Linked DNA regions of Homo sapiens: region 1 is linked to region 2. Evidence: fine-mapped expression QTL. A gene starts in region 2. The other region holds a variant in brackets. All regions are shown on one strand. Distances are between the middles of the regions.

What was found. PIP is the estimated chance that this variant, and not a neighbour inherited with it, causes the effect.
Region 1: its variant is fine-mapped to the expression of CTSE in whole blood (TOPMed, PIP above 0.99).

The regions. Positions count from the first base shown.
Region 1 is chr1:206,041,565-206,053,244 of GRCh38, forward strand. RHEX (regulator of hemoglobinization and erythroid cell expansion) reads left to right here and starts at 11,609. Exons shown (of 6, transcript NM_001007544.4): 1 at 11,609-11,680. RefSeq lists enhancers at 264-765, 6,019-6,188, 7,918-7,987, 9,142-9,641, 11,005-11,244 and 1 more. The variant C/T (reference allele first, on the strand shown) is at 4,829.
Region 2 is chr1:206,017,391-206,029,070 of GRCh38, forward strand. CTSE (cathepsin E) reads right to left here and starts at 6,505. Exons shown (of 9, transcript NM_001910.4): 1 at 6,334-6,505; 2 at 5,511-5,667; 3 at 4,760-4,877; 4 at 3,659-3,777. The coding sequence starts at 6,401.

The DNA of each region.
Region 1 (11,680 bases), 24 kb after region 2:
GCATTACAGAGCATCAGTTAGGTGCAGAGACTGGGCAGTGCACCCGTGTGCAAAGACAGGAGACACGAATCTTCCCTGAAGGAGTGACAGTCTAGGGAGGAAGGCAGACTGCAGGTGAGGTAACAGGTAACAGCTCTGTGTGAGGAATGCTATGATTGCAGGCACTGTGTGGGAGCCTCTTGCAGCCCTCCCGTGAGGGAGGGGGAGGCAGGGTTGGGGCGGAGTGTGCACAGGCAAGAACAAGCCTGGGGCACCGAGAAACTGCCAGAAGCCCAGGCTGGCTGCAGCATAAAGTGTAAGAGAGCACGGCTGGGAGGTGGGCAGGACTCAGATCATGGCAGGCCTTTCATGCCTGAGTAGGCAACCACTGTCAGGCAGGTTCACACACAGTAATCACATGCACGAGGTAACATGCGTGGAAGAGAACAGATGCTTTGCTAGCTGTCCTCTTGCCGCAGTCACTTTTTAACTAATCACTAAAAGGTGCTGGGTTACTATTGACCCCTACAGCACCTGTGTGGGATAAGGAAGGGGTACCCCAATGAAACAAACACAAGTTGGTTCTATATGAATTATATATATAAAATTATTAAATCCAAGATAATAGAAAATTAGTGTTTTTAGTCACAATACTCAGGATTTGAAAGTCTCTGGGATGTAACAATTCATCATAAGATAGTTTTAGTCATAAAATAATTTTCATGGGGACAACATTTTCTATGTCAATTTTAATGCCTGCTTGTTCCAGTTTTTTTTTTTTTTTTTTTTGAAATGGAGTCTCACTCTGTCACCCAGGCTGGAGTGCAGTGGCGCAATCTCGGCTCACTGCAACCTCCGTCTCTCGGGTTCAAGTGATTCTCCTGCTTCAGCCTCCTGAGTAGCTGGGATTACAGGTGTGCACCACCATGCCCCACTAATTTTTGTATTTTTAGTAGAGATGGTGTTTTACCATGTTGGCCAGGCTGGTCTCGAACTCCTGACCTCAGGTGATCTGCGCCCCCTCGGCTTCCCAAAGTGCTGGGATTATAGGCATGAGCCACTGCACCCGGCTCAGTATCTTATTTTCTATAAAAATGGTCACTAGAATTGATAGTCTTTCTTGTGACATTCTTGATAAGTAGCTTTTTATAATTGTTTTAAAAGTATCTACATTTTCCACTGCTGGCTGATACTACCAAAGTTAATGTATCCTAAGAGCTAGGATGGTTTTAGGAAAATGTGTCTGGTATATTATTACTGAAAATAAATTGAGGCATTTCATGGGAGGCAATTAGATTTTATTAATCTACTTATTTATTTATTTTTTGAGACAGGGTCTTGCTCTGTCACCCAGGCTTGAGTGCAATGGCACGATCATGGCTCACTGCAGCCTCAACCTCCTGGGCTCAAGCAATCCTCTGCTCTCCGCCTCCCAAGTAGCTGGGACTACAGGCATGTACCAACATGCTGGCTAAATTTTGTATAGATACAGTGTTTCACCATGTTACCTAGGCTGGTTTTGAACTTCTGAGCTCAAGCGATCCTCCTGCCTCCCAAAGTGTTGGGATTACAGGTGTGAGCCCAGCCATATCAACTAGATTTTAGAAAGCGACTTCAGGATTTTAGTTCCTCTTACACTAATGCTTCATCAGTATCACTCTTCCTCCTATGTTTCTCAATTTCAATTGTATATTTTTAATGGTTGCAGAAGCTCATATTTGTCATAATTTTTCAATTTATGCATGTCATCTAGAATACTGAAAAGACCTTGAGATATTCTTTATTATAAGCCTCTCTTTTAAAGAGATATTATTGCTTCCAATATAGAAAAAAACTAATTTTGCTATTGACCTTCAGATTGTAGAGGATTACAGGTGTGAGCCACCTCACCCAGACAGGAATTTTTAATATTTTATTCACTATTGGCTTTAAAGAATAGGCAACCTGGCCGGCCGTGGTGGCTCACGCCTGTAATCCTGGCACTTTGGGAGGCTGACGTGGGTGGATTACCTGAGGTCAGGGGTTCGAGACCAGCCTGCCCAACATGGTGAACCGCCATTCTCTACTAAAAATACAGAAGATTAGCCAGGTGCAGTGGCGTGTGCCTGTAATCCCAGCTACTTGGGAGGCTGAGGCAAGAGAATCACTTGAACCTGGGAGGCGGAGATTGCGGTGAGCCGAGATCAGGCCACTGCACTCCAGCCTGGGCGACAGAGCAAGGCAGCCTTAGAATCTTTTGGGGACCTATGCTGAAATCCATTAAGTTTGTCATAAATTTTTTTCATCTTTGTTGTATCTGCTCCCTCAAATCATTATAGCCTATATTCAGTGCTTCTGTTGGTGATGGTTGTGGTCAACCAAAAACCTAAATAATCCTTCTCCAGCTGTATCATTTACTGTAGGGAAAAAAATTAATGTTTACATATAGATATATTTGCATTTTGAAAATGTACAAATCTAAAAATAATTGTCAACTGTTCCACGTGGCTTACATCAGGAAATGTACCTCAAGTTATTTAACTGTGTGATATTTAGCACTTCTTACAAGATTCAAAATAACTTCAGTCAACAAATCTGCTATATTTTAATCATTTGGTTTTGCTTTTCATCTGCTACATAATGTGTAAATGCTATTTGGTGTTTATATATAGTATATAATATTTATATATAGTATATAATATTTGGTATATATTTGGTGTTTATATATAGTATATAATATTTGTACAATAATATACAAGTATATGTTTATATAAACAAATATATATTGTATATATACAAATTATTGCATATTTGAAACATACAATATATATTTGTATACTGCTGTAAATTCTATTAAGCTTCTATGCTTTTCGTAAATGAAGAAAATTCCTGTTATTATACTGCTTATACATTTTTGTAGATGATCCTCTGAATGCTAGATATTGTCTTGCCAAAACAGAATTGAGTTTTTTTGTTCAATGTAATATTTTCCTCATCATATAGAATCTGTTTTGCAGCATTAATAATTATATATTTCTAATCAGATTTGAAATTTGAATACTTAGCATTCCTATTGATGTTTATTTCAGATTCTTCATGTTTACAAAAAAATGTGCCAAGTGCTGTACAATCTTTGCATTCTTTCCCATTTTCCAGCTGATTTTTTGTTCTCAAAGAGCTGGCAAAATACAGAGTCCTTGGAAGTATAATAAAATAATCAGAATCTAGTCATTATTATTTCTCCTCACCATTTGGAAAAAATTTGTGTCCATTATATTTCCAAAAACTTCCAACCTGTATTATCTTTTGTAAAGATAAAAAATTTTTTACTTGAGGTGAATAATTTTCAGCAAGAGTACATCTTTGTTTCCTATTCAAACTACTTGGCCATGTGTTTGAATTCTTTGCATTTTTAAAGCTACTTTTTTTTAGATTCATCGATTATTTCTGACAATGGAACTAAAAGGTAAATTCACATCTCACATTTCTGTGACACATTCACTGAAACAAACAGCCCTAAACTCTCTATTTCTCCCTAAATTTATTCAATAATCCAAATAGTTTTACTTTACTTTCTATCTAGACAGCTTTTCATCTTCTAGTTTTAGTTTGATTTTTTTTTCTTATCAGTATCCTGGGAGAAATAATATTATATTAGCTTATTAAATGTTAAAGAAATATTATTAAGGCCGGGCATGATGACTCATGCCTGTAATCCCAGCACTTTGGGAGGCTGAGGCGGGTGGATCACGAGGCCAGGAGTTCAAGACCAGCCTGACCAACATGGTGAAACCCCATCTCTACTAAAAATACAAAAATTAGCCAGGCGTGGTGGCACATGCTTGTAATCCCAGCTACTCAGGAGGCTGAGGCAGGAGAATAGCTGGAACCCGGGAGGCGGAGGCTGCAGTGAGCTGAGACCATGCCACTGTACTCCAGCCTGGGCATCAGAGCGACACTCTGTCTCAAAAAAAAATATATATATATATATATGTGTATATATCTATATACATAATTAAAACATAATAGTAGTTTATCCTAGAACTTAAAACTTTAAAAAATATATATAATAAGCCATGAAACTTTACCAGCAGTTAGCTTTTCTCCTGAAGAAATTTTCTTTAACAACCCATAAACAATAGCTATGATACAATTCACAATTCATGATATAATAGTCTCTAATTTATGAATATAAAATAATTATTTTATGAATATATAATTGCCTATGATCATTAATTACCACAAAAGTGAGTTATGTAATAATAAAAATCCGTAGATCTAAATTAGGAATTCAGAGCTACCATTCAGGCAGACAATATGAACTGTAATGCAAAACTTCAAATTTAGCCAATACACAAATACTAATACAGGATTTAAAAAAAAATTAGATAAAAATCAAAACAAGAGTTGGAAAACAACTCCTTGTTTGGAAGCACTAGTTATTGTGGCACTCGTTACTTAAACCAATAAGGTCTTTGTCAAACACTCTCTGCTTCAGCTTATGAAGTAAATGTCAACCCTGTTAGAAAATCTATTTCCATCTGAAAGAAAATTGTCATAAAAAAGGATCTTTGTTAGAGAAGACATTTTATTGTTATTTGTCAGAAAACTATTTTAATAAGAATATGTCATCTACCTTTAGAGTTAGCAGTTAAATAAAAAAGTGAAAAAAATTCAACATAATGATGTCTGTGATGTGCATAGTTTCTGTCTTTCTTTTTTTTTTTTTTTGAGACGGAGTTTCACTCTTGTTGCCCAGGCTGGGGTCCAATGGTGCGATCTTGGCTCGCTGCAACCTTCACCTCCCGGGTTCAAGCGATTCTCCTGCCTCAGCCTCCTGAGTAGCTGGGATTACAGGCATGCCCCACCA[C/T]GCCTGGCTAATTTTTTATATTTTTAGTAGAGACAGGGTTTCTCCATGTTGGTCAGGCTAGTCTTGAATTCCCAACCTCAGATTATCTGCCCACCTTGGCCTCCCAAAGTGCTGGGATTACAGGTTGGATAGTTTCTTTAGATGTCATGCCCTTGAGCAATAAACAACCTGAACAACTGTCCTTAGCTACTCCAAAATTTATGTGGTTATTACAGCTAATAAAGATGATATAGAAACAATCTGTGTAGTAAATGAAAGGTAGTTTAAGGGATTTTGAGACCTCTGTTTGGATGCTGGTTTTGTTGTTTGCTAACTGTGACCTGGAGCAATTCACTTATCACTCAGTTACCTCAGCTACAAATGGGGATAAGTATGCCTCATCCTTTAAACTGCTGACCGGAGGTCACACGAGATATCCCCAGTTCTGAGTCGTCAACGAAATCGTAAGATGTGCATAAGGTTTCCATTTTGCACTTGTTAAAAATGTGCTTGCGGCCAGGTGCGGTGGCTCATGCTTGTAATCCCAGCACTTTGAGAGGCCGAGGCCGGTGGATCACTTGAGGTCAGGAATTTGAGACCAGCCTGGCCAACATGGTAAAACCCCGTCTCTACTAAAAATACAAAAATTAGCTGGACATTGTGGTGGGTGCCTGTAATCCCAGCTACTCGAGAGGCTGAGGCAGGAGAATCACTTGAACCCGAGAGGCAGAAGTTGCAGTGAGCCGAGATCACGCCACTGCACTCCAGCCTGGGCGACAGAGTGAGACTCTTGTCTAAATAAACAAATAAGTAAGTAAAATGTGCTTGCTTAAAAAAAATTTTTATTATGTTTTTAAATTGAATGAAGGATATGTGCAGAGCCAGTAAAGGATGGTAATATGGGATCAGTTCCTGTTAAGTCACCTGTGGACAGTTCTGGCTTCACATGTTCACTGGTGCTCTTTTGTAGGAGCCCAAGAGGCTGACAGTTTAATTTTCTTAGGATGCCAAATGTTAAGACACCTGTTTGACGTTTGCAAATAAGCTGCTGTGCAAAATGAAAACCTGATGGTGATCTTTAAAGCAACCCCAACCAATAAATACCTCTGTAATAAACCTCAAGAGGACGCAGGGTTTCTATTTGGAGAAATGAAATTCTGCAAAAGCAACCAGAAAAACATTTAAAGTCCTAGAAATGGTGAGAGTATATGGCTCCACTCGGTTACGGCAGCACATCTGTGGCCAGCCTGAAAAAGAGCAAAGGGAGTGTGTCCAACTTCTCATTCATTCAATGAGCATTTATTGAGGGCTGCTGTGTTCCAGGCACTGGCCTAGAAGCCGGGGAGATAAGTGAAATCAGACATGATCTCAGTCCACTGGGCTCTTGAAGTTCATGAACTGTCTTTCGTGCCCTCTGTCTTCCCAGGTTCTGTTCCTCCCTCCTTCTGCATCCTAGGTGACAGCCTTCCTTTCACCCTCAGGTGTACAATGCTCCCTCTCTTAGCAGTGATTTCAGATGTTCATCGAAGGAAAAATGGCTGGATATTCCAACTGCCATGCCTTCACTACAAGCACCCTCCCATCTGGTATATCCACAGCCTCAGCACTGCCATAGGAATCCTTCCTACACATCCGTGACCACAACAAATGCCACCTCCTCCATGTAGTCTTCCCTCGTCACTAAAGTTAGAAACAACCTGCTCCTCCTTTCTGATCCAATAGCCCTTTCTTTGTACATCTTTTTAGCTTTGATTATACACCTACCTTTTGTTACAGCTGCTATGGTTGCCGCGGATATTTTCCTCGCTAAATTGGGGTGGGGGGTGAGCGTGGGGTAGCACTCTCTGAACCCAGGGCCCGTGTCTCATTCTTCTCTATCCTTGTAAGCTGTCTCACGCTGCTAAGGACATACCATATGCTACAGAGAAGTTTGACTGGATTGGATTTTTTTTTCTTTGATTTTAGCTACCCAGAATCAGATTGATCAATCCCCCTAGTGGCATTCTTACATCATGGGTCCACGAACTGCTCTTATGTTCTATTTATTTCATATTTTTGAGTCTTTGTTCTCCATTTCCCGTCCGCTCCACCCATCCCACCCCACTCCTGTTATAGACACACTCTCTTGTTTTATTAAAGTGTGACCTTCGAATCTATCTTCCATAATGTTATTTGCACACTTGTGTAAGCTTGAGTGATACTTGAGATTGTTGGGATTGAATTTGCCTTTGGCTGAGGGAATGAAACACCTCCACTGGAATTTCAGGCACCAGCACCTGCAAGGAAGTTTTTTGAGGCAGTGGCTCTTGGAATCACAGCAGGAGGTAGTCAGCAGCTTAGTCCAGGGGCGGCGGACTTATCCAGCTTCCTCTTCCGCTTCTTCTGCAGGCTCCCCCAACCTCAGAGCCTCCTTGTTGCCTCATGCCTGGACTTTGCCCCTCTGGTAGAGCCTTTCTACACAGCCGCTGCACTGCCAGCCAGCAGGCTCCGGGGGGAATTCTTGTGTCCAAGCAATTGCTGTCCTCTTGACACATCGCTATTTGAGAACACCCAATCTGTTCCTCCTGAATCTTTTGGCTTGCACCCCTGGATGTAGCATAGCACACTCTTGGCAGATAAGGCAAAATGCTCCTCTCTTGCCCTATGGTGAAGAAATGCCATGGGTCCTTAGATCAGCAATTCTCAAACTCTTTGGCCTCCAGACCCCTGTACACTCTCAAAAAGTACTAAGGAACCCAAAACGCTATTGTTTATGTAGTTTATATCTATTCATATTGACCATATCAGAAATTAAAACTAAGAAAATTTAAAAATATTTATCTAATCCCCTTAGAAAATAGTACCAAAGCCATTACATCTTAAACATAACACTTTTTATGAAATATAACTATTTCCCAAAGCATGAAGAATTTAATGAAAAGAGAAGCACTGTTTTATGCATGTGCAAATCTCATTATTCATACCTAGCTCAATAAAAGACAGCTGAGTTCTCAGGTCTGCCTTTGCACTCAGTCTCATGCCATACCACATGTCACATAGACTTTGGGAAACTCCACTGTATGCTTGAGAGAAACTGAGAGTGAAAAAGGCAACTAGTATCTTAGTATTATTAAGAGAGTGGTTTTGACCTCATGAACCCTCTGAAAAGATCTCTGGAACCCCCAGGGGGTCCCTGGACTACACTTTGAGAACTGCTCCCTAGATCATTGGTTTCTTGATGACAAGGCCTTTTTCTATTCATCCTTACAGACTGGGTTATTTATTTATTTATATTTATTTATTTATTTATTTAAACTGAAAGACCAGTGTAATAGGACAGACTGGGCTTTAAACAGACTATGTAGTTGGCACTCAGTAAACTTTGCCTGAATTGTTTGGAAATGTCTGTGTCATGAGGGTTTATCGCTCCATCATCAGCATCCAGGGACATGCTATACTCACTCTAGTGATGCTGTTATTGCTGAAGGCGTTTGGATTCTCCTTGGAGGTCGGCCTTTAGAGAAATTGGTAGTTCTGTTGAATATCCTCAGTGATGTCATATCTTTGTTCTCTGAGGAGTGCTTTGATTTTTGGAAACAGCCAGAGTGAAATCTGGATTATAATATGAGTAGTCAAATTGGGTAACACTGTATTTTGGATTTGTAAAAAGGAATACTGACTTCCTAAAACTGGGATGGCAGATCTACTTTAATGGCCATTTCTCTAATTTTACACACATATTTACACCTGTGCAAATGATGTTTGTTGCAGTTTAATAATTACATCATCATTTCAAGTGTAAAAAGTGGAAACAATCTAAATTTACTACTAGATGACCAGTTAAATAAACTGTGAGCAACCATAGAACGGAACACTCTGAAGAGGAAGAAAGGAATGAGAAAGTTCTGTATGTATTAATAATAAATTAACTCCTAGATATATTAAGTGAAAAAGCAAAAGGCAAAACAAAGTATGTAGTACACTGTCATGTGTAAGGAAGACGCCTGTATGGTGAGTGTGTTTCTGTGTGTCTGTGTGTTTGCTCATGTACACATAACGTACACAATAAACTGGGCATGCTGGTTTCCTCCAGGGAGGAGAACTAGATGGCTGGGGTCAAGAGCAGATGAGCAGCTTTTCCAGGACTATCCTTTTGTACCTTTTGAATTCTAAAACCATCTGAATGTGACCTAATGAAACAAACACTTCAAAAGTCCCAAACTGAAAAGGTGATGATGTCCTCCCCTTACAAAATTAAAAATAAAAACAATTTTAACACTTAGAAAACCTATTCTCTAAAAGAATTCTCTGTATTTCCTGGCCAATAACACAATTGTTAGAAGAAATGTACAATGTACCAGGTGACATGTGGAAGGGGACAACAGAAGGGGGCAATGACAGGCACTTGTGAAAACATTTGCCTTTTTCTTGATCACGTCTTGTTCCTCTTCTCATCCTTGCTTCATTTCACAAATAGGGGAACTGAGTCCAAGTAAGTGAAGTGACTCATCCGTGCCACCTGGGCTCTTGGTTCCAATGCTTGCCTTGTTAGGGGATTTCCTGACTGCTCCTGCAGCTCTCTTTGCTAGAATGTGGTAAGAGTTGGGGGAGGAGAGGGTGGCAGATCCTCTTTCATTTGGCCTTAAGCACACCTCCCTCTTCGCCTCTCACCCTGAGCAGGGCTGGCGCCTGAGGCCGGTGAACACCTGTGGTGGTGGCTGTGGGACAGCATCTTCCCCTGCTCTTTCTCTTCCTTCTTCCCCTTGGCCACCCACACCCAGGCAGGTGTCCTCCCCAACCCCAGGACACTGCTCTTGGTGTTTCACAGGCACGTGTCCTCTTTTTCTGAAATTGACATTACCCAGTTCAACATCACCTACTTTACCGGAGTACTTTGGGCTCTTTCAAATCAATTTCCGCTTCGAAGGCTAAAGATTTGTCATCAGCTAAGAGGTTCAAAAGTCTGTGGTGTAGGCTCTCCAAAATTCTGGCAGAGGTCAGTTGACCCTGGCTTTTATGAAGGAGTCTTTGGCATTCATTCATTCATTCATTTATTGAAGAAATATGTATTGGACCTATTCATTGCATGAGGCACTTTCTAGACACTGGGGGTGAAATGTTGGCCAAAACAGATAAGGTCTCTGTTCTTATGAAGCTCACATTCATGTGATGAGAGGCTGACAATAATCAAGTAAACAAATAAATGATCAAGGTGACTTCAGATACTAATAGATGAGAGGGCGATGTGACAGATAGGGTCTGGGGAGCCACCTTTGAATTTGTGCTGAATTCTATCTGAAGATGCCTTCACTAAGAGAGAGGTGCTGTCTCCATGGCCTTTGAGGCCCTCCCCTCCAGTGGTGAGATTTTAACAATCTCCCCATCTGACAGGTTCCCATGCAGGAATGAAAGACATGGAAGGGAAGAGGGGGGCCAGCTCCCTGAGTCCTGTGTCCACCAGCTGCTGCTAAATACCTCTGAGAAACTCTGCTTCTATCTAAGGGGACCTACTTCTCTCGGGAATCTCAATACTTGGAACAAGAACCTCCTAGACGGACCCTTTGGCATAATGAATTGGACCAACTGTAGGTTCCAGGACTAGAGAGCCAGCAATGCCTCCATGAACAATCTCACCCAATTACTCTGCTCAGGTAAGACCAACTGAAAACTAGAACAATACAAATGGTGGTTATTCCTGTCTTCTGTTTCTTTGTTTGTTTTTGTGACAGGGTCTTGCTCTGTCACCCAGGCTAGAGTACAATGGTGTGATCATGGCTCACTGCAGCCTCGACTTCCCTAGCTTAAGTGATTCTCCTATCTCAGCCTCTCAAGGAGCTGGGACTACAGGCATGCAGTAGCACACCCAGCTAATTTTCGGATTTTTTTTTTTTAAAGTAGAGACAAGGTCTAGCTATATTGCCCAGGCTGGTCTCAAACTCTTGAGCTCAGGCGGTCCTCCTGCCTTGACTTCCCAAAGTGCTGAGATTATAGGCGTGAGCCACTGGGCCTGGCTCGTTATTACTGTTGAATAATAGTCTGATCACTGAGTTCTTAAACAACTCCATGAGGTAGGCATTCATATTCTGTCTGTTTCACAGATGAGGCTCAGAAAAGCTAAGTGTTTGTCCTAAGATCACAGTTAGGAAGTGTCTGAGACCCAGGTCACTGTGAGGGAAGAGAGAGACCCTCTCATATTGTTTTATATTGTTTTATACTCAGTACCTGTTTTAAGGAAAAACAACAAGGAAGTAAAACCAAAGACAGGCAGTCCGGCGCCAGGCCCGAAACCAGGCCTGGGCCTGCCTGGCCTAAACCCAGTAGTTAAAAATCAACTCATAACTTAGAAACTGATGTTATTCATAGATTCCAGACATTGTATAGAAGAACATTGTGAAACTCCCTGCCCTGTTCTGTTTCTCTCTGACCACCGGTGCATGCAGCCCCTGTCACATACCGCCTGCTTGCTCAAATCAATCATGACCCTTTCATGTGAAATCTTTAGTATTGTGAGCCCTTAAAAGGGACGGAAATTGTGCATTCGGGGAGCTCGGATTTTAAGGCAGTAGCCTGCTGATGCTCCCAGCTGAATAAAGCCCTTCCTTCTACAATTTGGTGTCTGAGGGGTTTTGTCTGCGGCTCGTCCTGCTACATTTCTTGGTTCCCTGACCAGGAAACGAGGTAACTGATGGACAGCCGAGGCAGCCCCTTAGGCGGCTTAGGCCTCCCCTGTGGAGCATCCCTGAGGCGGACTCCGGCCAGCCCGAGTGACGCGATCCAAAGAGCACTCCCGGGTAGGAAATTGCCCCGGTGGAATGCCTCACCAGAGCAGCGTGTAGCAGTTCCCTGTGGAGGATTAACACAGTGGCTGAACACCGGGAAGGAACTGGCACTTGG
Region 2 (11,680 bases):
AAGTATAATGCAAATATTTCAAAATCTGAAAAAATTTGAAATCTAAAAGGCTTCCGGTCCCAAGCATTTGGGATAAGGATCCATAACCTGTATATATAAATCCAAATGATTTTTTTTGAGACAGAGTCTCACTCTGTCACTCAGGCTGGAGTGCCATGGCATGATCTTGGCTCACTGCAACCTCCACCTCCTGGGTTCAAGCAGTTCTTCTGCCTCAGCCTCCTGAGTAGCTGGGACTACAGGCGTGTGCCACCACGCCTGGCTAATTTTTGTATTTTTAGTAGAGAAATGTTGGTCAGGCTGGTCTCAAACTCCTGACCTCATGATCCACCTGCCTCGGCCTCCCAAAGTGCTGGGATTACAGGCGTGAGCCACTGTGCCTGGCCCCAGATGATTTTTTTTATGTTGACCTCATATCCAGCAACTTCGCTAAGTTCACATATTAATCCCAATATCCTTTCTGTAGATATTTTTGGATTTTCTACTTATGGAATCTTGTCATACATTAATATTGACAGAGTTATTTCTTCCTTTTCCATCTTAATGTTCTTTATTTCTTTTTTCTTGCCTTGTTGCACTGGCTAGGATTTTCAGTACAATGTTGAATAGAAGTGGTGAGATTGAGTGTCCTTGTCTCATTCTTGATCTTATGGAGAAGTCTCTCGACAATTCACCATTAAGTATAAAGTTTGCTGTGGGCTTCTTTTAGATGAAGTCCTTCATTTTTATCAGATTAAGGGAGTTACTTTCTACTCCTAGTTTGCTAAGAGTTTTTCTTGAAGTCATGAATAGATATTGAATGTTATTAACCTACTAATATAATCATATTGGTCATATGATTTTTCTCCTTTTATTCTGTTAAATGATAAATTCCTGGAAAGATGACCCTTGGTATGATCTTTTTATATACCAAAAGATTTTATTTGCTAGTATTTCATTTAGAACTTTTGCATCTATATTCATGAGAGAAGAGATTGGTCTGTAATTTTATATTTTCTTTTGTTATAATGTCCTTTTCAAGTTTCATTATTAAAGTTATGCTGGTTTCATAAAATGAGTTATAAAGTGTTTTTACTTTGTCAAATATCTGGAAGAGTTTGTGAAAGACTGATTTTTTTTAGTGTTGAGAGAATTTATCAGTGAGGCTTTTCTTCGTGGAGTTTTCTTTGTGGAAAGATTTTTTAATAACAGAGTATATCTTTAAAAGATTCACATTTTCTATTTTTTGTTTTTGCATCAGTTTTGGTATGCTGTATTTCTCAAGGCATTTGTTGATTTTCTGAAAATTGTAAAATTTATCAATATAAAATTATTCTTGATAACTTTACTAATGTTCTCTTTCTCATTTCTAACATTGTTAAGTTGTATTTTCTTTCTTTTTTCTTATTTAGTCATGTGAGAGGCTAACCAATTTTATTACTCTTTGCAAAGAGTTCATTCTTGGCTTTGTTAATTTTCTGTACTGTGTGATTTCTCTATTTCATTTGTGTCCCATTCTACTCTTTATTATTTCCTTCCTTTTGATTTCTTTGGGTTTGATTTGCTATTGTTTGTTTACGGTTTGCTCATTTTCTTGTTATTCATTTCTTGAAATAGGAGCTTAGATAATTGATCATTAGCATTTCTATTAACAACGCATGCATTTTAGGCTAAATGGTCCCTTTAAGGGCTGCATCAGCTTCATCTACAAATTTTCACATGTCATATCTTTATTATGTCAGTCAGGGTTTGATAAGAGAAGCAGAACCATTAGGAGGTACTATAGATTATAGATATAGCTATAATGATGTGGATATAGATATTGATTATATGCAACTGTGGGTGCTAGTTAAACAGTGTACTTTAGGATACTGTTTCTGTCCTGATGCTGCAGCAGCAGTCTACAGTTTGCACAGCAGAAAGGGAAGATAGATGTCAAGTGGGAGAAAAAGGGCCAGTTGGAACCCATGAGGGTGAGGGTGGACTGGAACCCACATTGTTCTCTCACTGTCCCCAAGTCTCCAGCCTCAATGATGGGGATGTTATGCAGCAAAAGCTGATGATTTGTTAGAGGTAAGTGCACACCTGGTCCTGGAGCCAGAAAAACTGAGGGAAGGAGCAATGCAGCTGACATTGCTGTGGGCTTGGCTGCTGCCCTACACCAGCCAGGTGAGCCAACAGATACGTGACAAGCTATAGGCTTGAATTCCCCTTTCTATGCTAATTTCAGTCCCTTCCCTGCATCTCAGAGGTTACTGTGATGATCAGTTAGGGATGTAGCCTTCAAAATAGTCATTTTAACTTTTATATATATATTATATGTAATTAGATATATAATATATATGTATATGTCATAATATATATAGAATCTTATATATAACATAATATATACACATTACATATATATTGTGTTAATCTATTATATAATAGATTAACATATTATGTAATATATTATGTTAATCTATTATATAATAGGTTAATCTATTATATAATAGATTAACATAATATATTATGTAATATATTATTACATACAACATATTAATATATTATATAACACATACTATATTATTAATATAATACATTATATCAATTATATTCTATAATATATTATATATTATATAACATATATTAATGTAATGTATTACATATTATATTAATTATATAATATATAACATGTATTATATGATATAATTATGCAATTATTATATACTTTAATATGTTACATATTGTATCTATATAATATATACAGATGGATATATATTATATATACAAATATACTGTATATTACATATATTCATATATGGATATTATATATTATATATTATATATGTAATGTGTGTATACACACGCATACATAGTTCCAATAGAAAATACAGTACATTGTTTTATCTGTATGATATTTTTACATAGATGGTGTTTTTCTGCTTCTGGCATTCTTTCAGTTGATAATATGTCCTACTCCACCCACTCTAAGGGATGTTGATGAAGGCTGTGCCCTGCTGGCCTCGGGAATACCCCAGGGACCAACGTTCACCAGGAGTAGGTCAACCTCTCTTTCTCCCAAGGCCCAGGCATATATTGCTGTCTATAAGCCTGAAAAAGTACCTGGCTCTCTGTCCCCACATTTGTCTGATTCCCATAGTTCTAGGACCCATAGGACTTCAGAGGGAGTCAGAGGGTCAGAGGTCAGAGGGAGTTTGAGGAACAGCTCATGAGCTCAGCACTGAGTTCAGTTTGGACCTTGGCCTTTGGACAACTGGGCTTCTGCCTTGCCTCTGTGATTGGACTCCCATTTCAGACCTTGCCCCCTTATGTTACTGAGTCCAAATCTCTCCCCCTGGTGTGGACTTCTTTATCCTTCAAGACGGAGACGTGGTTTTATCTCCTCAATGCCCTAGAGACTGGAGATCCAGCTGTGCACCCTGCCACCAGGCTTTGTGCACTGGGCACTGCTTCCTGCCAGAGTCCCCCTGTGCTGCTCTCCCCCAGGGCCCAGCGTGCTGTGGAGACTGACCCACTGCCACCATCTCAGGTGGGGAGTGTTGCTTGCCCTTTCTCCTAGAAGTTAGTGCTAACCCCTGTTTCCACCCATTCCTGAGGCAGATTTGAAATGTAAGACCTCTGAATAAGTCTCCCAAGTTTCTGTCCAAGAGAGAAAAAATGAAGGACTTGCACTCACAGAGACTTGGTCGGCTCCAATGATCCCGGACAAGCTCCCGGTTCCATACTGAATGGAGAAAGATTGACCTGGCTGGCTGTATGTGCTGGACTGGGAAGGCTGGAACCTGCTGTGCGTCTCTGGAAAGAAGTGCACTGCTCTTGCTTATGCCATCGGCTCACTGGCTGCATCCCTGCCCTAATGCCACCCAGCCCCACAGCGGCAGGGTCTCTTCCCTCAGCTCTCAACACTGAGTGGGGGCCCCTAGAAGCCTGGTGATGCCCCTCCCTAATGAACAACTACATTTCCCTCTAGCTACAGATGTGGCCTAACTGGGGACCAAATAGCTATCCCTGAGCAAACCTGATTGTCCACAATGACCTCATGAGGCACACCAAGATAAGTGTCATTTATCAGGCGCCAGCCACAGTCCCTGCCACCCATTGTGGGTCAGAGGTTGGCTTCAAAAGAAACTCAGGGATAAACAATTGCCCCAGGAAATTACTCCCAACTTTTCTCCCAACCGATGGACATCTCTAGCCTTGGGGTTTCCAGAGACATTCTGTCTCTGGGACTTGTCCTGTATCGAACAAGACATCTTTCTGTAGCTCTTCTTTTCCAATCCTCACTGAAACTTCTGAGTTACCTCTGGACAAATGGACCCACCCATGCCATTGTGCCCCACCAGCCCCACCTGTGTGCACCAGGAGATAAGGCTACCAAGCCTCCTTGAAACAAGCAGACTATCTACACTAGAACCCGACTCACCTCCCTGCTCAGAAATAACCAATTAAATTAAACTTCCCCTACATTCCTTTGGGTGTTCCAAAGGAAGTGAGTCATTATGTCAAAGATTTCTCTTTTCAATGGCTTTCTTTCTATTAATTCTGATCAGTATGAAAGTTACTCTCTTGGACAGCAGCCACATTTTAGTTCTTCCTTGGCTTTGCTCTATCTCTGCTATAAGCAGTTCCACGGCTGACTCAAAGATGGAGAGTGGAAGCTGGTGTGGCAGGGATGGCCAGTTTCTGGAACCTAAGCCCCCCTTCCCCAGAGTACCAGGCTTGGCCTCCCAGGACTAGCCCCCAGACATTCTCTGCTGGTGCTCCTGGCCCCACTTACTGCAGGCTGGGCTAGTGCAGTACACAGAGGGGACCCAGAGGTTGGAGGAGCCAGTGTCGAAGATGACAGTGAAGTTCTGTGGTGGGGAGCCAATGGAGATAGTGCCGAAGTATTCCATCTGCAAGGAAGAGTGAGAAGGAAAGAGGGTGTGGGTGGTGGGGAGGGACAAGGGTGCTCACCAGGAAGCCAGGGGAAAGCTCCCAGGGGCCAGAGCCTGGGGTAATACAGACTGGAGTTTACAGAGCCTAGGAAGTGGCAACGCTGGAAAATAAAAGGTAAAAGGAGCAGAGAAATGGCCATGAAGGAGGAAATCAAACCAAGCCTCTGGCTACTTCATTTGATTTTACTTGCACTAACCTGATTCTTATAAATACATTGTAGGAGAGGCAGTGGAGGAAGAACCATCTGTTTTACAGACCAGGGAACTGGGGCTGGGAGAGGTTAAGTAACTTGCCTAAGGGTACACAGCCAGTAAGCTGCCCAGCTGAGAGCAGAAGCAGGGGCCTTCAGTGTGGGATGATGCTTTCACTCCCAGCCCTTTCCTTCTGCAGAGAACTCTGACATTTGGGTACATGGGGGCCTGCTTAGCCAACTCCATGGGGACCCAGGGAATCAGTCCCCATGGATCATCATCCAAGTGAAGAAATCCACAATGGCCTTCGGTGCTACTGATGTGGCACTGGCCATGCCCTAATGCTGGGCCTTCCTCCCGCTCCCACCTCTCCCCAGCCCTGACCCCAGGAGGCCTCACATCCAAGTAGTTGATGAGGGGTTCCTTGGCACTCTGGTCCATTGAGCAGGACTCGGTGAACTGGATCATGTCCAAATTATGGGATTTCCAGAACTCAGAGAGCTGGCTCCGTGCCCGCAGCTTCTTCTTGAGGGACGGATGCCTCCTGAGGGGCACCCTGGAGACAAACCCCCATGTAAGCAGGAGATGTACTTCTGCCTCCCTCTTCCCCCCATTCTCGTCCCATTTTCTCAGGGGCCAACTAGAGAAGATGGGGTGGGAGGGGGGGATCTGCAAGACAGCACGCAGGATACAGGTGGGATCAGCGTCCTCTCTGCCACTCAGCCTGCCCGGCCTCATCTCTGCCCTATAGAGTCTTAGAATCTTAGAGTGGAAATGGCTCCCCTCCTGGAGCTGAGGTCTTTGAGATCTAGGAAAATGGGAGATGTGGGGCGGTCTACAGTTTTACATGAACATCACGAAGGGCTGATTTAAAGGGACAGAAAAACTCTTGGGGACAGTGATGGTCAGTCCCCTGGGGAAGTCCTGGGGCGCTTTGAGCTACAAACCACAACTGCAGGTTCCTGCTCTTTTGCAACACAAGAAGACCCCTGGGACTTGGGAAGGCACCTCCGTGGAGGTGGAGGCAGGAGGATGACTTGTTGAGGACTGGAGATTAAGGCCATACACAGGCGGTCACTGGATGAGTCTCTTCCATGCATTGACGCAAGCCCTCAGCTTCTCCTCCTCTTCACCTCCCCATCAGCTTTCCTACCCCAGAGCAGCCCTGAGTTGCAGGGCATGGGACTACCCAGCTGAACACAGTGCGGGGACGTCTTCTCACCTGTGAAGGGATCCTTGGGCCTCTCCCAGCTCCAGGAGCACCAGCAGCAAAAGAAGGAGCGTTTTCATTGTGAGTCCGACCAGCAGCTTCTCCCTTGCCCCCTCCTTTCTTCTCTCCCCGAGGGCAGTGGGAACGGACTTTCCCTAACTCTCAGACCTGCCCAGCCCAGTCTGAGGGCCGAATGATAAGGCCCTGGAGTCATTAGCCATGCCCAGAGTAAATACGGCATGTGGAACAGGGCGTTCCCCCTGCACCTCTCCGTCCCTTTCCCACCTACAAGAGGAATATGAGTCTGCGGGGAGAACTTGGGAGTCCTCTGGGGCTTGGCTTCTCTCAGGGCTTTGGCACCTCCTCTGACCCCAAGAAACCCTGTTAATGAATCCGGAGGGCAGCACATGCCTGGCTGCCTGGAAAGGCCCACTGAACTCTTACTGCAAGTGCTCTAGCTGGAGACTCTGGAGGGGTGGGAGCTGACTTGTCATGGGTGGCAGGATTCTAACTCAAAATATTCGTCAGTCTGTTTTCTGGGTGATTCCTGTTCTCTCCTCAATCTCTCAAATGCTCCAAAGGCAGTTTATCCTTCCCTGGCCCACTTTGAAGCACAAACCAGCACTCCTCAAAGGCCCTGAAATGGGAAAATGTAGCTGCAGATTTATGGAGCCCACTCTCCTGACTCTAAGGACTTGATGAATCTGGGGCTGGGGCTCAGGGGTGTGTGGAGGAGAATGCAGGGGCAGCGAGGGAGGGTCAAGGGGGTCAGCGTCTACAGCAAGTGCCCGCATGAGTCTACTAAAGCGGCCATGACAAAGTACAGGGGGCTTAAACAACAGAAATTTATTTTCTCACTATTCTGGAGGCTGGAAGTCCAAGATCAAGGTGTTGGCAGACTTGGTTGCTTCGGAGGCCTCTCTCCTTGGCTTGCAGATGGCTGCCTTCTCTCTGTGTCTTCACATGGGTCTTCCCTCAGCGTGTGGCTGTGTCCACATCCACATTTCCTCTTCTTATAAGGACGCTAGTCATATTGGAGTAGGGCCCACCCTAATGACTGCGTTTACCCTTAATACCTCTTTAAAGACCCTATCTCCAAATACAGTCACGTTCTGAGGTACTAGGTGTTAGGACATCAACATGGATTTTGGAGGACAAAGTTCAGCCCTTAACAGTGCTCAGGGACAATAGGATCTTCTATCTGTCAAGTGGGACTAAGCGCAGGGGTGGAGAGTGGGTGGGGCTCAGGCCTTAGTTACCGCAGTGTGTGAAACCCCCTCACCATCAGCCTATCTCTGTGGCCACCCGCCTCATAAACAGATGGTGGGGCTTCAGTGCCTGGGGTGGGGATGAAGGGGTTACAGGTAGGAAGACCCTGACCCTGACTCAAGTTAGCCAGGGCAGCAGAGGCCACCACCATATGCCAATGCTTCCAGAGGGCACTAGCTCAGCAGTAGGAAGTAGATGGCCTGCGTTTAGGTTTAGCTCTGCCCTGACCAGCTAGTGTTCTGGAAAATCTCTTAAGTGCTATGGGATCTGCCTTTCATCTCTGAAGTTCAAATGGCAAGCAAACGTGGAGTATGGAGCTAAGCCAAACCCACCCTTGGGTCCAAAAATGTTAAAAAAAGACATCAAAAAGACTTAAGGAACAGCCTAGACCTTTGACCCCTGAACCCAAGGCAACAAAGCCTCTTTGGCATTTCCCAGGAGCCCGTCTTGTTGATCTTTCACTGGGGAGAGTGGTCTAAACCTAGAAGGGCAGCTTGAGTCAGAAGTGGCTAGAAGTGGAGATCATTCATTTTGGCAGTAAACTCTGCCATGTTTTGCCCGTAACTGCTTATTCACCACATACCTTAGTTTTGTCATCTGCCAAATACCTTACCTACATCAATGGGTTTTTAAGGAGGATTAAACAAACAAAATAAGGTACAGATATACTTGTTGTACTGCACTCTGCTTTACTGCACTTTGCAGATACTGCTTTTTTTTTTTAATTGAAGGTTTGTGGCAAACCTGTGTCAAGCAAGTCTATCAGCACCATTTTTCCAATACTGTGTGTTCATTTTGTGTCTCTGTGCCACATTTTGGTAATTCTTGCAATATTTCAAAGTTTTTCATGATTATTTTATCTGTTTTGGTGATCTGTACTCAGTGATCTTTGATGTTACTGTTGTAATTGTTTTGGGGTACCACAAACTGCACCCGTGTAAGACAGAGAATTTAATAAGTGTAATTGTGTGTTCTGATTGCTCCATTGCTCTACTAACTGGTCATTCCCCCATCTCTCTCTCTCCCTCTCTTTCTCTCCCCCTCGGGCCTTCCTGTTGCCTGAGACACAACAATATTGAAATTAGGCCAATTAATAATTCTACAGTGACCTCTAAGTGTTTAAGTGAGAGGAAGATTTGCATGTTCCTCATTTTAAATTCAAAGCTAGAAATTATTAAGCCTAGTGAGGAAGCCATGTTGAAAGCCAAGAAGGGCTGAAAGCTAGACCTCTTACACCAAACAGTTACCCAAGTCATGAATGCAAAGAAAAAGTTCTTAAGGGAAATTGAAGGTGATATTACAGGGAACACACAAATGATAAGAAAGCAAAATAGTTTTCTTGCTGATATGGAGAAAGTGTTATTGGTCTGGATAGAAGATCAAAGCAGTGACAACACTCCCTTAAGTCAAAGCCAAATCCAGAGCAAGGCCCTAACACTCTTCAGTTCTATGAAGGCAGAGAGAGGTGAGGAAGCTGCAGAAGAAAACGTGAAGCCTATGGAGATTTCTGCAAGGTGAAGCAGAAAGTCCCAAAGCAGAAGCTGCAGCAAGTTATCCAGAAGATCTAGCTAAGATCATTGATGAAGGTGGCTACAATGAACAACAGATTTTTAGTATAGACAAAATAGCCTCATACTGGAAGAAGATACCATCTAGGACTTTCATACTAGAGAGAAGTCAATGCCTGGATTCAAATCTTCAAAGAACAGGCTGAATCTTTTGTTAGGGGATAATGCAGCTGGTGACTTTAAGTTGAAGCCAATGCTCATTTGCCCATTCTGAAAATCCTAGGGCCCTAAAAAACTATGCTAAATAGAGTTTGTTTGTGCTGTATCAGTGGAACAACATAGCCCTGGATGACAGTACATTGGTTTACAGCATGGTTTACTGGATATTTTAAGCTTGCTGTTGAGACCTACTGCTCAGAAAAAAAAAAATTCTTTTCAAAATTTTACTGCTCATTGACAATGCAACTCATTGCCAAAGAGCTCTGATGGAGATTTATAAGGAGATAAATGTTTTTATGCCTGCTAACCCAATATTCATTCTGCAGCCCCTGGATCAAGGAATAATTTTGACTTTCAAGTCTCATTATTTAAGAAATGCATTTTGTAAAGCTATAGCCACCATAGATAGTGATTCTGATGGATCTGGGCAAAGTAAATGGAAATCTTCCGGAAAGGATTTACCATTCTAGATGCCATTATGATTATTCATGATTCATGGGAGATCAAACTATAAAATTAAAAGGAGTTTGGAAGAAGTTGATTCCAATCCTCATGGATAACTTTAAGGGGTTCAAGACTTCAGTGGAGAAAGTAACTGTAGATGTGGTGGGAATAGCAAGAGAACTAGAAGTGGAGCCTGAAGGTGTGACTGAATTGCTGCAACCTCATGATCAAACTTGGATGGATGAGAAGTTGCTTCTTATGGATGAGTAAAGGATGTGGTTTCTTGAGATGGAATGTATTCCTGGTGAAGATGCTGTGAACACTGTTGAAATGCCAACAAAAGATTATGAATATTGCATTAACTTGGTTGATAGCAGTAGTAGGGTTTGAGAAGATTACTCCAGTTTTGAAAGAAGTTCTACTGTGAGTAAAATGCTATCAAACAGCATCATATGCTACAGGGAAATCTTCAAGAAAGGAAGAGTCAATCTATGTGGCAAACTTCATTGTTTTCTTAGTTTAAGAACTGGGCGCTGTGGCTCGTGCCTGTAATCCCAGTATTTTGGGAGGCCGAGGCGGGCAGATCACCTGAGGTCGGGAGTTTGAGACCAGCCTGACCAACATGGAGAAACCCCATCTCTACTAAAAATACAAAACACCTGGGTGTGGTGGTGCATGCCTGTAATGCCAGCTACTCAGGAGGCTGAGGCAGGAGTATTAATTGAACCTGGGAGGCGGAGGTTGCAGAGAGCCGAGATCCTGCCACTGCACTCCAGCCTGGGCAACAAGAGTGAAACTCCATCTCAAAAAAAAGAAAGAAAGAAAGAAAGAAATTGTCATGGCCACCCCAAACCTGGAGCAACTACCACCTTGATCAGTCAGCAGCCATTAATGTCCAGGCAAGACCTCCGCCAGCAAAAAGGTTATGACTCCCTGAAGGCTCAGATGATTGTTAACATTTTTAGCAATAAAGCATGTTTTAATTAAGATGTTTTTAGACATAATGCTATTGCACACTTAATAGACTACAGTACAGGGTAAACACAACTTTTGCATGCATTTTGAAACCAAAAAACTTGTGTGATTGACTTTATTGCAATTTTCACTTTATTGCAGTAGTCTGGAACCAAACCCACAGTAGCTCCAAATGATGCTTGCATGTGGAAGTTCTTGAAAAACTGTAACATGTCATGTGAACTAAAGATTGTCACTAAAAACTTCAGTGTTTCAGAAGTGCTGGAAGGGTTCTTACAGACTCTCAAGACAAACCCACTTGTATAGCAGAATGAGAAAACTGAGGCAGAGAGGCAAAGTGATCAGCCCAAGAGCACATGGTTCATTTAGTGGCTGATCTAGGATTAGGACTCAGCCCTCCTGACTTCTAAGCGGGCAAACTTTCTGCTACAGAATTATAGCATCATTATCACTGAACTGTTGAAAGGGGGCTAACCATAACCCCTCCCTCCTTTTCCATCTTTTAGACCTCTCCCTGCATCCCTCTTGCCCCTGTTTACTAAATGTAGAGAGTTTGCCTGGCCCAGGCTTGAGAAAAAGCTGACTGGTCCTTGCAGCTGTGGGCCACCTGACTACTGAGTGGAGCAGACACAGCCTCGACTGCCTGCAAGGAGCCCCTGGGTCTAGCTGGATTTTGGAAAATTTGACAAAGGTTAAGAGCAGGAACACTGGGGATGTTTGTCAGAGCTAATGGGATCTGTCCTCTCCAGAGACACCAGGAACTGAACCTACCCTGGCTGTAGATTACTGGCCTTTTCCAGCAAGAACCAAATATTGCTGTGGACAATTTGAACACTTTCCAAAGAACAAAAGACCTTAGGCATATGTGTGGTTGTCTGTGTGTGTCCTTTGAGCAGAGGGAGAGAGAAGAGCATTTGAGGTGAAATAGTATGATGTGGGGGAAA